2 separate regions of the Homo sapiens genome follow, and region 1 is linked to region 2. A link means that fine-mapping ties the variant in region 2 to the expression of a gene that starts in the linked region. Tissue or cell type: prefrontal cortex. Region 2 holds a variant in brackets; the other region holds the start of a gene. All regions are shown on one strand. Distances are from middle to middle.

What was found. PIP is the estimated chance that this variant, and not a neighbour inherited with it, causes the effect.
Region 1: LINC01938 starts here. The variant in region 2 is fine-mapped to the expression of LINC01938 in prefrontal cortex (CommonMind, PIP 0.95).

The regions. Positions count from the first base shown.
Region 1 is chr5:165,240,488-165,248,560 of GRCh38, reverse strand. LINC01938 (long intergenic non-protein coding RNA 1938) reads left to right here and starts at 5,062. Exons shown (of 5, transcript NR_183276.1): 1 at 5,062-5,405; 2 at 6,736-6,932; 3 at 7,804-7,889; 4 at 8,032-8,073.
Region 2 is chr5:164,249,255-164,257,327 of GRCh38, reverse strand. No RefSeq gene overlaps it. Among named protein-coding and RNA genes, the nearest start is that of LINC03000, 43 kb to the left of the region's middle. The variant C/G (reference allele first, on the strand shown) is at 3,725.

The DNA.
Region 1 (8,073 bases), 990 kb before region 2:
GCCTACCTTCCAGGCATGTTAGACTCTGAACAAATCCCCACCGATCTCTGTATAGCCTCTTGCTATTCCTTATGCCTGTTCTTTACATATTGAAACCCTGAGACTCTTTTAAGAAGGGATTTGTTTTCTCTTTCATTCCATGATTCCTAAATTGGAATTAGTTGCTCCTAAGTACCTGGCTCATATATCTTGATTTCCACCCTGAACTTACCCACAGCATATTGCATATAATAGAGAATTATTATATATTTTAATGTAGTAGATATTAAACTAAAAGCCAGTTAAAATTAAGGAGTAAATCTTTGAGCAAATATCATCAATACATCCTTATGTCTGCATGTAATTAATTGTAGAGAGAAAGCTAGTCAAACCTGAAAAAAATTTTCAAATATTAGCACACAGGATAAACTTATAAAATAAAATCTGTGATGCTTTAGTATTTATTTCTATTCTTTTAGAACCATAGATATCACAGGTGATTCCCATTCTGATTAACATAAACATGAAAACATTCACTAAGCCAACTGACTTAAGTAGCATACTTCTTCTTCCTTCCCAGAAAAGAAAACAAAAAGGTCAAAACAAGGAGTGAGTCCATGTGGGCAATGATGGACTGAGACTGACATCAAGGAAATTGAATTCTGTAACCTTGTGACCTCCAAAACTATGTTGGAAAACCAGAACTGGTGATTCTATTAGTGAGTCAACTCTCCTCTCTTTAAGTGTCAAAAGGGAAGTCTCCACACAGTAAAAGACCCCAAGACACGATGAACCTCCAGAACTCCTCAGCAGTTTAATTTGTATTCAAAAATGTCAGTGTAAATATTAAAAATTCTCTAGCAAATGTAAGACCAAAACAAGACACAATAAAAATGTTACATAATATAATTAAAATTCTTCTTGGTCATATATTTCATTTTACCTTGATTTATAGCTATCTTTATTTCTTACCCAAGTTGCAGCAAACATAACAACATATCTTGTACACTAAAAAGTTACATATTCTAAAAAAGATCCTTTTATTTAAAATACATTTAAATCTAAATTTGGAATTTCTACTGATCTTAAAGTCTGCTATTTTTTTTAAACTATAATTCATTGGCCTCAAAATATTACCACCTAACATATGTAGAGTTAAAAGAGGAAATAAATCTTATATATTTGTTCCATAAATATGAGGATGAAATATTGCCCCATAATGAGATTATATTCTCAAATTATATTATGACCTTTAAAAAAATTTCATACTAGCAGTTAAAGTACAATCCCACTGCTTATGATGATTTATTCCATCCAGAGACAATTCTGAAAATGGTGCTCTTAACATGGCACAGGCAGTATTTGCAATAATCCTTGCCTGCTCAGTCTACAGAGTTTTTTGCTGACCAAAAATAATCCCTCTCTTATAGATGATAGACAGATACACAAATACATAGATACATATAGATAGATGTATAAACATACATATACATATATACACGTACATGTGCACAAACACACACACACAGAATCTCTCTTCACACAGTTTTCAGACATTGTCTTTCATTTCAAATTCTTGAGGGATAACACCTCAATGTAACACCCATGTAGTGAAAAGCGGGGTAGGGGCTGCTAGATTTGAATCCCAATTGCAGCATTTATCTGTTTGAACAAATTATAAATTCTCTAAATCTTTTTCTCATGCATAATAATGCCTACTTTGCAGGATTAATCTAAAAACAGAGAAACCTTATTTTCAGTGAAAATACAGAATGTAGTGTGTAGTACAGAATAGAAGGTCAGCAAATATTATCATACCAAGTTTGATCTCACTAACTAGACAATATCCTTTTATTTATTCCTAGGTCTTTATCTTCCTTTATTTTCTGGCCCTTTTCTACTATGTTCCATCTTTTCTTATTCCATACCCTTTCCCTAACATGTCAAATAATGAGACTAAAAACAATTCTATTTAATTTTTGACAGCTTGTTTTACTCAAAAAACTTTGAAGAGTAAAAGAGGATGGGTTTACATGTTATGTTTCCTGAAAAAAAAAATGTGTTCTCTTGAATTTTCCAGTGATACCCTTTTTTATTTTTTTGGGAGCTTAAGTTTTACTAGATTTTTTGTGCACAGAAATAATCGAAGTTCACAATTTTAGGCTAGGGTATTTCTGTCAGCACCAGCAAACCTGGCATTGTTGGACTTCTTACAGGGGGGCCAGAAGCTGCAGTCTGTTCTCCCTCAGTACTCCTCTATCTTTGAGTAAACCCCACTGCTTCCTTGATAACCTGCCCCTCCACACTCCTCCTGTTTATTTATATTTTCATGTATTCATTCTATCAACAAACATTTTTGAAGAGACTTTTATGTGCCAAGTACAGTGCTAAACAGATGAGAAATAACAGGCATAGTCTTGAAGTTAGCTAAAGGAGCGAATAGACTCATGGAGAGAAAGCCAACTGTTCCACTTTAGTGCAGAGTTGTTAAAGGATATAACGGGGTAATTAAGTGACACCACAGGGACTTTTAGGGGATGCCCAACTTAGTGTTGTGGGGTTGAGGGGAGACTTCCCTAAAAAGTAACACTTGAGGTTGAGGGCTGTTAGCAGAAGTAGGAGAAAGCCAGGCAACTAGGGATATTTCCTTCTAACTTCTATCTCCTCCCATGCACGGATTATTCTGGTCTTGGCTGAGAGACTTCTCTTCCTAATGTTCTGCAGTCATCCTGGCTGACTTCAACATCCATGCAGAAGGCCCAACCAACACCCAAACTTCTATTTCACCATTTCCTCAACACCAGTGACCTTTGCCTGTTTTCTCTATCAAAATATGAACATGCCAATGGCAAACCCTTTTTCAGCCAAAATGTATTAGGATTTATGTAATTGAATTCTCTGAATATTAAGCTATGTTTATTTTCCTTCTCTGCCCCCCCCAAATTAACTTTTCTGATTTTTCTTATACCATTAAATTTCTTCATCTCAGAATCTCTGCTTTTAGAGGGAGAGGATCTCTTACTTCTTTGCCCAGTCCTTAAATGTTTCTTATGCTTAGAAATCTATTATACTTCTTCCAACTCACTCTACATATTTTCCAGAGAATGGATCAGTAGTGCTCTACATGCTGACATCTTCCAAATATTTATTTATAGCTGGGATTCCTCCCTTGAATTGTCAACCTCTAATTATATAAATTGCTTGGGTATTTCTCTTGCACATATCACTGGTGACTTAGAGACAATTTGTCTAACTTGAACTCATAATCTTCTTCCCTTCCCAACTTTGTTATACCTTACTTTACATCCTCAGTTGTTCCCTTTCTCTGAAAGATGTCACTATTGACCTTGTAGTTCAATTCGGAAATATATAACCTTTTCTCCCAATACTCATATGGAATTAATCATCAAGTTCTCCCAGGACTTGCCTATTAATATATCTAGAGGCCAGCTACTTCTCAGCAGTCCTGGCACTACTCTTTTAGTTTGAGTAACCACCCCTTTTTGTTAGTTTTGTGTCATTCTATTTGTAACAGGTCCATTTTTGTTCCCATTTATTCTTTACCTTTCTTGTAAGATCATTACAGTTCCCCACAACATTAACCTCAGCCTTGGCGATTTGGCTATCTTTGGTTACTGTAAAGAGAATTGGTATATATGGTTTTAAATTAGAAACTTGCTATCCCATGACTTAGCCATAGAGTTACCTTTTTATTGTAAGGTAAAACATAGATGCAGAAAACACAGACACAGATACAGAAAACAAAATATAATAAGTATGTGACTAAGAAAAAAAAACATTTGTAAAAAAAAACCGAGATCAAGAAATAGAATTAGACTAGGGACTTGAGGCCATGAGAAGGTGGCTGTCTGCAAGCCAGGAAGAAAGATCTCACCAGAAACCAACTGTGCTGGCACTTTAATCGTGGACTTTGAGCCTCCAGAACTGTGAGAAAATAAATTTCTGTTGTTTAAGCCACCCAGACTGAAGCATTCAGCTATGGCAGCCCAAGCAGATTGACACACATGGGCGGGTAGGTAACCAAAGCAGACTGTATGACTGTATTAGAGTATAGGGACATTGAGGGAGATACATGAACTCTATTTTTCTGGGCCAACCAGCTTTAAGAATCAAACTCTGGAACTACTAGAAGCCACTATTCCTGGCACATAGAAAAACCTGCTAATGTATAATAAATATATCAAAGCTGAGGGATGGTGATGAGTGGATGAGGGATAGTGATGAGTGGATGAGGGAGGTGAGGAGGAGGAGAGACAGAGAGAGAAGCAGATGCATTGTTTGAAATTCCAGATGCAGTCATGTCAGAAGCCACAATGCCCACTGGGTTTCTTAGTTACGCGAGGCAATAAATCCCCTTCCCTTCTCTGCTTCCTTCTTTAAATTTAATGATTCTTTCTTCTTATACATAATGATTCTGTTTTAATGAGGTCTTCCTCATATACCCTCAGTAAGAACATGAGTGAAGGCAGAAAATGAGCTCACAAGAGCAAGAGCAGTAGGCAGCTATTTGAGAAGGGTAGGTAAGCAGGCTTCAGAACATGCCCTTACATGGTATTTAGATTACTGAAACAAGGGGAGAGAATGGTGAGTGGGTAAAAAGAAATCAAAGATTCAACTAAGATCAGACTTTATGTCTACAAAAGATCATTTCTGGTAGTTCTCCAAATACATATCAGTATTATTTATTTAAATTACTTGAAACCCACTTCTTTAGGCATTGTTATTAAAGAGAAAAAGCTCCTTTGTCAGCATTCTTTACACCATTAATAACCTTCCATACCCTGTTATACTCTCCCTTGGTTAAGGCCACTAAATAATTGCTTTATTTGCATATTTGTACCATGTCCACCTCATTATGGATAATCAATGCACCTTATTAATAGCATCAGTATCAAAAAAGAGAGAAAAATCATATAATTTACCAATGACAAAACAAATTTACCAAGATCTGTGGTAATTTCCTTCTAATTCCTAAGTCAAAGCACTGACTTTGAGACAGTGCATATGGTTTTTAGACCTCTACAGGAGACAAGAAATTATAAAATTCACAGGCAAATTGTGGCTACTGCACTAGCTAACATTTAATCTGTGATGACTACATACTCCTCGTGACTTTAAGAGCTTTAAGTATTTTAACTCATTTAATTCTTAGAACATTGCTATGAGTTCTGTAATACTATTGTTGTTTACCGAAGAGGAAACTGAGGCACAGAAAGCCCAAGCTCTTGCACAAGGATCAGAAGGGGGTATAACCAGAATTTGTTTCTCAGCATCCTGACCAACAATTATTTTACCTACTAAACAGGGAAGCCTTTCAAATATAATCCAGGGTATCCGCTTCATTTTACAACTAAAGAAATGAAGGCTGGGTAAGGATAAAGGACTCACAAAGATCGTGTGTTTAGGTAATGATTGAACTATGACAGAAACTCCCATTCTCCAGATTTCCAATTCTGAACTCTCCCTTCTCTGTCTATAATAAAGTTCTCCAAACCAAAAATATATAGTGACTTCAATCATCTAGGGACCTAACATTTCTTACCATTTTGAAGTGGCTTTGTAATGTTTAACTTGGCTAGTCTGAACTTCGTTTTCTGGAATTTCCTTTCTTGTATGCTTCTGTTTAGGATGGACCACAAAGACATTCTTCTGTGAGACTTAGAGAAAGGAAGCAAAACAGGCACCATGTTGTTGCTCACATATGTTGCTGCTGATCTTTCAACTGACCTCATTGGCATGAGGCTACAGCTGGGCCTGAGACTGCTCTATATTTTCTTAAATTGTCCTTCAGTTTCTTTGATTCTTGGGCCAAGTGTGTGTGTTTAACTTCATGATGAAAAACTTCAACTACTTCAGATCATCCGTGCCAAAAATTTCAGAGGCAGTGAGAACATACACAGGTTTCAATGTAAATTCTCACTGGGTTTCAGCCTATGCCTGTAGCTTCCAGCTTCTTCTAAATCTCCCTGACTTTACATATGTCTTTCATTACTGGCTTCCCAGCCACTCCAGTCATTATATAATGGGCTCATAAATAAAGTGGCCATCATGGCAGGAATCAAGGTTATCTATGGCATCACCAACATGAATTTTCTTTCACCCAAGCCAATATAGCTACAGCCATTGCCGAATACCCCGAATTGCAGGAATGGGGCCATTCCTGCAATATGGCCCCATTTCCTGAAGGATCAGCCAGCTACCTGTTGCCAGGTTAATTACATTGGGCCACTTCTGTCATTGTAGGCACAGCATTTTGTTTTCACTGGTCAAGCTATTAATCTGGATATAGATTTGCCTTCTTACTTGCAGTGCATCTTCAAACTGTCCACAGATTTACAGGATATCTTATTCACCATATTCCACATAGCATCATTTCTGACCAAGAAACTCATTTCACAGCAAATAAAGTGCAGCAATACACCCAAACCCATGGAATTTACTGGTCTAATCATATTCTCTATTGTGCTGAAGCAGCTAGCTTGATGGACTGATGAAATGGCCCTTTCAAGTCTTATTCATGACAGCATCTGGGTGGCAACATAATGCAGGGCTAGAAAAATGTCCTCCAGGATAAAATATGTGCATTAAATCAGCATATGGTATATGACGTTGTTTCTCTAACAACTAGGATTTACATATCTAGGAACCAAGGGGTAGAAATAAGAATGCTTCCTCTGAACATTATCCCTAGCAATCCAATAACTGGATTTTTGTCTTCCATCCTTACCACTTCAGTTTCTGCTGGTCTAGACATCTGGGTTCCAAAAGAAGAATGCATCTCCCAGGAGACATGACAATGATTCCATTCAACAGGAAGTTGAGACTGCCACCTGAACACTTTGGGCTCCTCATGCCTCTGAATCAACGGGCAAAGAAGAGAGTTATAGATCCTAACCACCCAGGAGAAATTCGGTGGCCACTACACAAACAGAGTAAGAGGAGCATTTCTATGATGCGGGAGATCCTCTAGAATGTTTGTTGGTATTCCCAGGTCCTGTGATTAAAGTATGTGGAAAACTATAGCAGCCCAATTCAGGATGTTTCCAGATACTTCAGTAAGTGAGAACTGTGTCACTACGCCACATTGACCAGTTGAGAGGCTAGCTCAGTGCAAAGAAAATATGAAATGAGTAGGGGAAGAAGGTAGCTATAAACATCAGTTATGGCCACATGACCAATTATAGAAACAAGACTAGAATAGTGTGAGTACTTATTTCTTATTTTGGTATAACTATGTTTGTATTTGTATTAACCAAGTATCTCCCTTTTCTTTCTCTTTCTTCTTATCAAAGATGTATTAATAGTAATTAAATTTATATCATAGTCTTGAAATTACAAGATATCCAACTTGAAGCATGCATTGGGAGAAGAATAAATATCATCCAAAGACAAAAAAACAACAACACGACGTTGTGTTCTACTAAAAGGAAAAAAGCCTATTTTCAGATGTACTTAGAAGAGATACACCATGTTAGGTGGAAGTTTGACTTTGTCATGATCTTTTGTGTAGTCTAAGTATGATTTAAGATGTTTATGAGTGCCAAATTGGTAAGGAGTGGATTGTGCTGGCTCTGCAAACTATGTCAGCTTGGCTGTACTGGGCTACATTTCCCAGAGTACCCTTCCCTGTATATCTCCACTTAGGGTGGGCCAAGAGAGATTCTTGCAGGCGATTTAGTGGGTGGAAGTAAAGCAACAACTATTTTATATCTTGCACATATTTTTGTCAGTCTGGTTAAATTATTGATGTGAGGCATGAGGTGGACCTACAACTAGTGCACCTTCCCTTTGATATTTCTTCAGCTTTTCTGACTCTGCGGCCAGGTGTTTGTATTTAACTCCACGGTGAGGAGACTCATCTTCTGACGGACCTAACCTATACCATCAAGGTCAGAGGCAACAAGAAATGGCATGCATTTCAGTTTATTGTTCTGTGGCTCCAGCTTGTATATTTTAACTCTAGATTTTTTTTTACTTTCCCCACTTTACAATCATCTTCCCTTTCCAACTACCTTCCTTGTGGACTTCAAGCTCCAGCACCACAAGCAAAGACAAAAACCTTGCGGAAACTAT
Region 2 (8,073 bases):
AATGGGCCAAGCCCAGATTTCATATTAAAGTTTTATAAGATTCTATATGATCTTGCCCAACCTTGCTTCCTTCCTACATACAAACCTATTGAACATCTTTCTCTCTCCATTCTTTTCTAACTTCCTATCCACTCTACCACCATCCTGCTTCACCAGAGTGTGGCACGCTTTCTCCTCCCTTTGGGTCATACGTAAATGCTGTTAATTATTACATGGCATGTGCTCTTTCTCCTTCCTTATCAGTTTTTAATTTTTTATTGCTGTTGTTCTCTTTATCCTGGCTAATTCCTATTCAATATCCAAGATACACCCCAGCAATGACCTTCTCTTGAAAGATGAATTCTAGAAAGGTGGACTTGAGGACCCTTTCATGGGCCATGTATATTAACAATCCTAGCATTCAGTTCACTGGATTTTGATTTTCTTTTCTTACCTGCTGCTATTTTGGAGAAATTGCCGACTCCCTTCAGTGGGTTAGGTCTAATTTTAGTTATTTGTAATGAAGGATGAGACAAAATTCTGGACCATGGAGAGGTGGAAACTTGTCAAAGAGCTTTTCTGCCGTTGATTTATTTATTAACTACTCTGAGTGAGAAGAAATAGTATTTAAGGCGAATCTCATAAGTTTTAGCCATTTGTCAGTGAGAAATTTTAAGTCTAAGCAAGCAATTTTGGGCTCTCCACCTTTTTTTAAAGGTTAGAGTGACATAGGAGTATGACAAAGTGAGTAATTCAAAAGAGGATGAAGAAATTCACCCTTCTCAATACCTTCTCCAGGGCAGAATGACTAATAGTGGTATAATCTAGCCATAATTCTATTACCTCATTTGAGGCATGCTTAACAAATAAGAACTGGTATTTAGTGGCAACATTAAAACAGAGCAAAGGAGTAGTTTTTGGATAAAAGGTGTTACAACAGAAACTTTGGTATATATAGCATGGTGTATTTTTTGCAATATTTGTTACTTATGATTTTTGTGATGTTCGCACAGATTACTGTGACTAACTTAATAATTAATAATCATAGTTTGTAATTTTATTTTTACATGGGGCAGAGGACACATTTTTTTGTCTGGCAATTTTGGGCGGCATTTTCTGTCCCATAAATAGGATTGTATCACGGGCCACCTCCATTCCTCTATGCCCAGGCTGTGAGCATCTTGAAGGCAGGAACTGTATAAATACTTCTTTAGTCAAGGTAATAGCACAGACCTTACATGAGGTAAATGTTCAATATGTATTTGTTGAATAAATGAATGAATGAAGGGTACCTTTCTTTTCCCCCTTGTCGAGGCCACCTACTGGTGTGGCTGGTAGATGGCAGAACAACATTTCAGCACTTCTGACATCTTGTTCTTGTCTATGCTAAGATAAACTATCCATGGGCTGGGTGACAGTATCTTTGGAAAGCTGATTAATCTATTCTTGACCTTGAACTCTTTCTCTTAGCAGGTTTGACAGGCTATTTTCTACAAAAGAAAATAACACACAAGTTCTTAAGGAACTGCACCTGGGTGGTATCTGCAAGACAAAGGCAGCTCCCAGTGAATCCTCTCTCCTCAGACGGTGTAACCAGAAGCTCCTGTAATAAAAGAACATATAAAGTAAATTTGAATGGGGTAGTAGAGATAAAAGGGCAAGGATGTGAGCTGAACTTGTGTTTTTAGCAACTTGCAATGCTTGCTGCTAATTAAACAAAAGTCCCTACTTGAACAATCAAGTAGGAAATGTGATTAATGGAAGGCAGTATGAAACTGGAAGCACCCAGTTTCTCTTTCTGGGCTAGTTTGGATTTTCTGATCCCCGAACAACATCTGGGAGAAGGCCCAGCATTCTAAATATTTTTGCATATTGATTAGTTCAACAAATAACTGAAGGCCAGATATGTGCTAGGAAGTCTTCTGGATGCTGAGGGTAGAGCAGTGAACAACACATGGTTTATATTCCAAAGCTTATCTGACTCAGGTTTTCTCCTACAATGCTCCTACCTACCAGCTAAAGAATTGAGATTTTAAACTACTAATAATATATTTGTTTTTCTGCTTAGATTTTCTGGTCCTTGGAAAAATGCTATATTTGGGGAAAACTGCTTTCTAGGACGCTGGACATAGTGATTGGTAATGTCTGCACACTTACTCTGACTGTTCCCCCTGGGTAAGAAGGTAGCCCCGCCCATAGTGAAGATGTATCCCCTGAAGCATGCTGTATTAGTCCGTTATCACACTGCTATAAAGAACTGCCAGAGACTGGGTAATTTAGAAAGGAAAGAGGTTTTAATTGACTCACTGTTCCGCATGGCTGGGGAGGCCTCAGGAAACTTACAATCCTGGCGAAAAGCAAAGAGGAAGCAAGGCACTTCCTTTACAAGGCGGCAGGAGGGAAAATGAAGGCAAGAGGAACTACCAAACACTTTAAAACCATCAGATCTCGTGAGAACTCACTCACTATCACGAGAACAGCACGGGGAAAACCACCCCCATGATTCAATTACCTATACCTGGTCTCTTCCTTTACACCTGGGGATTATATGGATTACAATTCAAGATGAGATTTTGGGTGGGGACACAGCCAAACCATATCACACATATTGTGCTAGTTTTTCCAGATAATGGTAGAAGTCTAAATGGACTGTAGGGCAACACAAAATCAAGCTCCAGACCTGGCCAGGCGCAGAGAGACTCACCTGAGCAGGGCAAAGCCATGTGCACTGAGACCTGTGGCATCTAATTCTTTTCTGGGGGCCACCTCTGTGTGTCCCTGGCACTTACAGTGTGCACATGTGTGTGGCCGCTATCTGGCCATCCATATAATTCACTGTGCCTAAAACACTGCAAATAGTCAACTCGTGTTAATTTCTCTTCTTTGTTTTTGAAGGAGAATATATTTTCTGTATCTTTAGTTTCTTTAACTCAACACATATTTACTGCTTATTTACAACCTGTGTAGTGTGAAGGGTTGGGAATGCTGTATTTTCTGGGGAAGGACTGGGCTCTTAGAATACAGACAAGGGAGGGGTCTTTGTACTGTAATTCCTTGTCCTTAATTTTCTAAGTGAATGGATAAGAGGAAAAGGAAAAATCTGTTCAGTGAGACCTGGCTTTATTTTGGTTGGTGTGTCTCCATTGTGCCATCTGACTTTGACAATGACAGTTAAAGGTACCTATCTTCCTATGAACTTGTATCATCTATTCTTCATCATCACTGGTATCATCACAATGAGAAAAAAATAAGGTCTAGAGGAGATGTCTGTCAATCAGTTTTCAAGTTCATCTCTGTTGTAGCAGTGAGCAGACCTTCTCTTCCTGTCAATCGCCTTTTGTAACCTGAAGAAAAGGGAAAGTTACTGACTGACACCAAGGAGAATTTCTTTACATTCCATTCTCAGTATCCAAGGGACTCTGGGATTTGAGACCATAAAATTAGTGTCAATTTGAGGCCTTTCTGAGAGAAGAAGGAAAAAAAATGGAGATTACCTGAATTCATCTTCCACGGGGCCCATTGCTAACATCCAATCATAGCGGCTGTCAGTCACAGAGAAGGGCATATATTTCAATGACTGGGTATCTCTTTAATTATAGAAATGAATAATCGGGCTCCCCCAGCTCTCTTCTTAACAGCTACAGCCCATGAAATGAAAGGTTTGAACTTGAAGGATCAACACAAACAGAATTTGCAGCAATTTCTATTACTGGTTTCTTTTCTTATTGTCTGAACACAGTATTTC[C/G]TTACTGACAGAGGAAATGAATGAGGTCTGGAAACGTTTTTTCTAAGCTTCAGTGGTATTTAACGGCATTCCCTTCACCTTCTCAGGCTTTGTGGTTGTGAACAGCATCAGAAATTGATGATCTTTTCTTTAAAGATACAAATTGCTTTAAAAATCTTCTCCAAACTGTAAAAAAGTAGAGAACATTTAAGTTTTTGAGTTATCATAGAATTAGCAAACATTGTTATCATACTCACTTTGAATCAAATAAATATTTTTCATCCTATTGTTGATGATTCCTACATTATTTAGTGGTAATTTTGGGGAGACATATATCCAGAATAGTTAAGATTGAAAGAAATTGATTTTCATACTTTGTATTCTTTAGTTTTTCCCTGGGGAGTATAAAGAGGTTAATCCAGTGTTTTACACTTAAAAATTACTCTGTTGGCCCCGGGCGCAGTGGTTCACGCGTGTAATCCCAGCACTTTGGGAGGGCAAGGCGGGCAGATCACTTGAGGTCAGGGGTTCAAGACCAGCCTGGCCAACATGGTGAAACTCTGTCTCTACTAAAAACACAAAAATTAGCCGGGCGTTTTGGCGGGCGCCTGTAATCCCAGCTACTCGTGCGGCTGAGGCAGGAGAATTGCTTGAACCTGGGAGGCAGACGTTGCAGTGAGCTGAGATCATGCCACTGCACTGCAGCCTGGGAGACAGAATGAGAGTCAGTCTCAAAAAAATATATTACTCTGTTACTGTCATGATGACTTTTCTGCTATGATAGCATTGCTCCAGTTAGTAATTTACTGAGCACCTACTATGCACAACAGTGTGAAGAATATGAGAGTTGATCATGCTTTACCTAAAGAAATTAGTGGCCAGTATGAAAATAAATACAATGAAACATTTATAAAAGTAATGAGTATACTGAGAGGGACAGAGATAAAGCCCTTTGGAAGTTTAGAAGCCTGAGAAATAAATGCCTCTGGATAAAATCATGGAAGACTTCCTGGGCGCAAATTGGCATTTATACAGGCTCTTTGGATGTTAAGTACAATTTCACAAGTAAATAATCAGTGAAGGAAAAGTGGAGTGAGAAAAAAGTGTTACAGTGAAACAAGATGTATAAATTGTACAAGATGTGTAAATTGTATAAGAATGACAGTAAAAGTATTCACCAACAGAGATCCAGCATGTATTGTCAGAGCTTTTAATTTCAGGATAAGTAGTTGGTGGAACTTTTGGTTTATTTTATTTATATTTAACTTTTATTTTCACTTCAGGGCTACATGTGCACGTTTGTTATATAAGTAAATTTCATGTCGTGGGAGTTTGTTATACAGATTATTTCGTCACATAGGTAAGGCATAGTACCTGATAAGTAGGTTTTTGATCCTCACCCTCCTCAAACCCTCCTCTCTCAAGTAGACTCTGGTTTCTGTTGTTCCCTTTATTGTACTCAGGTGTACTCAATGTTTAACTCCCACTTATAAGTGAGAAAAAGTAGTATTTGATTTCTGTTCCTGTCTTAGTTCACTTAGGATAATGGCCTCCAGCTCCATCCATGTTGCTGCAAAGGACATGATCTCATTCTTTTTTATGGCTGCATAGTATTCCATGGTGTATATGTACCACATTTTCTTTATCCAAAAATGATAGATGCTGGTGAGGTTGCACAGAAAAGGAATGCTTATACACTGCTGGTAGGAATGTAAATCAGTTCAGCCACTGTAAAAAGCAGTTTGTTGATTTCTCAAAATCTTAAGATAGAACTACCATTCAACCCAGCAATCCATTATGGTATATATTCCCCCAAAAACATAAATCATTCTACCATAAAGAGACATACAAGCATTTATTCACTGCTGCACTACTCACAATAGCAAAGACATGAAATCAACCTAAATGCCCATTGACTTTTGTTGTCTTAGGTAAACAGAATCCATGAATTGTTTGGGAACAATGAAAGGATATGATTAAAATACTTTCAGAAGATTAATTTGATTATTATTCTCATGCTTTTAGAAGAGTTCAATTTGCTGTCAGCTTTCCGGCATGGAAATTTCTACTAAGATATACTTATGTAATATTATTAACATATTATAATATGCAAATATAATATTATAATATATTATATTAAATATGTAATATTATTAATGTAATAGTAAGTTATTATACTATATTATAGTTATATATTATAATATACATATTTCCTGTCTGCAAGTTTGGAGAATATTAAAGAAATACTCAAGAAATAACTTCCAGTAGTAGTATAAAAACATCGTCTAATAAAATTCAAGTGTGTGTGTGTGTGTGTGTGTGTGTATTTTTTTCTTTCTATTTTCACACTTTGTCAGTTCAAATATCAGGGCACTTTGTCTATGAAGAATCAGGAAACATTTAAATAGTATATGTAAGAGAGAAATAGCTTCAGAATGTAAACTAACAAAAAATATTTATGTTAAGCTACCTTATCTAAACATTTTACAAAATTTTCTCTAAGCTTTTGAAAAATCTAATAGGAATTTAGAAAATAGCATTGTGAGGACTTGCATTTTTTTTTTTTTTTTTTTTGAGACGGAGTCTCGCTCTGTAGCCCAGGCTGGAGTGCAGTAGCGTGATCTCGGCTCACTGAAAGCTCCGCCTCCCGGGTTCATGCCATTCTCCTGCCTCAGCCTCCCGAGTAGCTGGGGATACAGGCGCCCACCACCACGCCCAGCTAATTTTTTGTGTTTTTAGTAGACATGGGGTTTCACCATGTTAGCCGGGATGGTCTCGATCTCCTGACCTCGTGATCCGCCCGCCTCGGCCTCCCAAAGTGCTGGGATTACAGGCGTGAGCCACCGTGCCCGGCGGTACATTGTTTTATTAAAGCACAAAAACCCATATCAAGCACTAGACTGAAGGAGATCCTTGTTTCTACTGCAGAGCTAAAATCTCATTCACACATTATTAAATTACCTAAATCATATCTATAAAGTTGAATACCCCGTTTTGTATGTAAACAAATGCAATTGAGAATTGGAAAAGATACTGATTTTATGGGGCACTGATTACATTACTCAGCACCCTTTCCTAACACTAAAATCCAGGATATTCTAAGTCCAATCAATATTAATATTACATAATAATGACTGATCTTTTTGGTGAGTAAAGCCTTTTCATACTAATAATCTCAGGCTTTCCTGATGAATCAAGACTTTTTTGGCTTGAAACGTTGCATTAAAAATCTGTAGATAACTTTAGACTGACTTACTTCTATTAATAGTGTCAGGTGAACTTTTAAAAGTCACTGTTTGCAATAGATTGACCAAAGAGGGTAGGAAACATTTATTCAGCTCTTAAACACTTTATTTTATTACAGGCTTTTTTTTTTCCTTAGCTAAGTAACTGATTTCAAGGAACATAAATATTTCATATGCAAATACCTCCCAAAATGGGCATCTTAGGTAATTTAGAGAAGCTAGAAGGAAATGCATGCTAAACATTTTATTATATTTTAGCAAATTTCTGAAGTAATTAGGGTAGAGTATTAGAATGCACATCCCTAAAAATACGTTTATTCTTTTTAATTATAGGTATTTGGAATTTATGTCCACACTGTGTGTAGTTATATTCCATTAAATGCTAAGACGATAATGTGCAAAGCTTCCAGAATTTGGAGGGATTAGGTAGAGACTGTCGATTCAAGCAATTTGATCTAAATTCTAAAAGATTAAAAAGTTGAAATTGTCAGAAAGGCTAATGTTTTCATTGTGATATGGTTACTCTCTGGCATGGAAGATATATCTTTTATAGATTATAAAAATACTCCAAAAAAATTCTGTTAAAGTAATTAGAAAAAATTTCTCTGTCACTAGCGCTTTACATAAAAGAAAACAAACAAAAAATAAATCATGCATTGTTAAACATTATCTATACTTTCTCTGACATTATTTTATAGAATTTTGACCTATAAAATGAAAATTTTCAGGAAAATTTTAGAACCAGATAACAAGTTTAATTATGTATAAGTAAATTACAGCACACTAATTACTACCGAGATAAATCTATTTCTCAAATATATTACTTAAATCAGTATTTTTTCTGAGAAATGGACAAAGTACTTAAAAGAGATAAAAATAAAGCAGGAATCCTTTCTGTATTATAAATATAAGAAGAAAAATCATCAAGTACATTTCTTGTTTCCAATTTAGCTGAAGAAAGTATCAACGATTTAATTAATAGAGTAAATTAACCCCACAGACAATGGTCGGCAGTAGGATTGTGGGCATTTCTAGGCTTTTTTAAAAAAAGATTATTATACTTTAAGTTTTAGGGTACATGTGCACAAGGTGCAGGTTAGTTACATATGTATACATGTGACATGC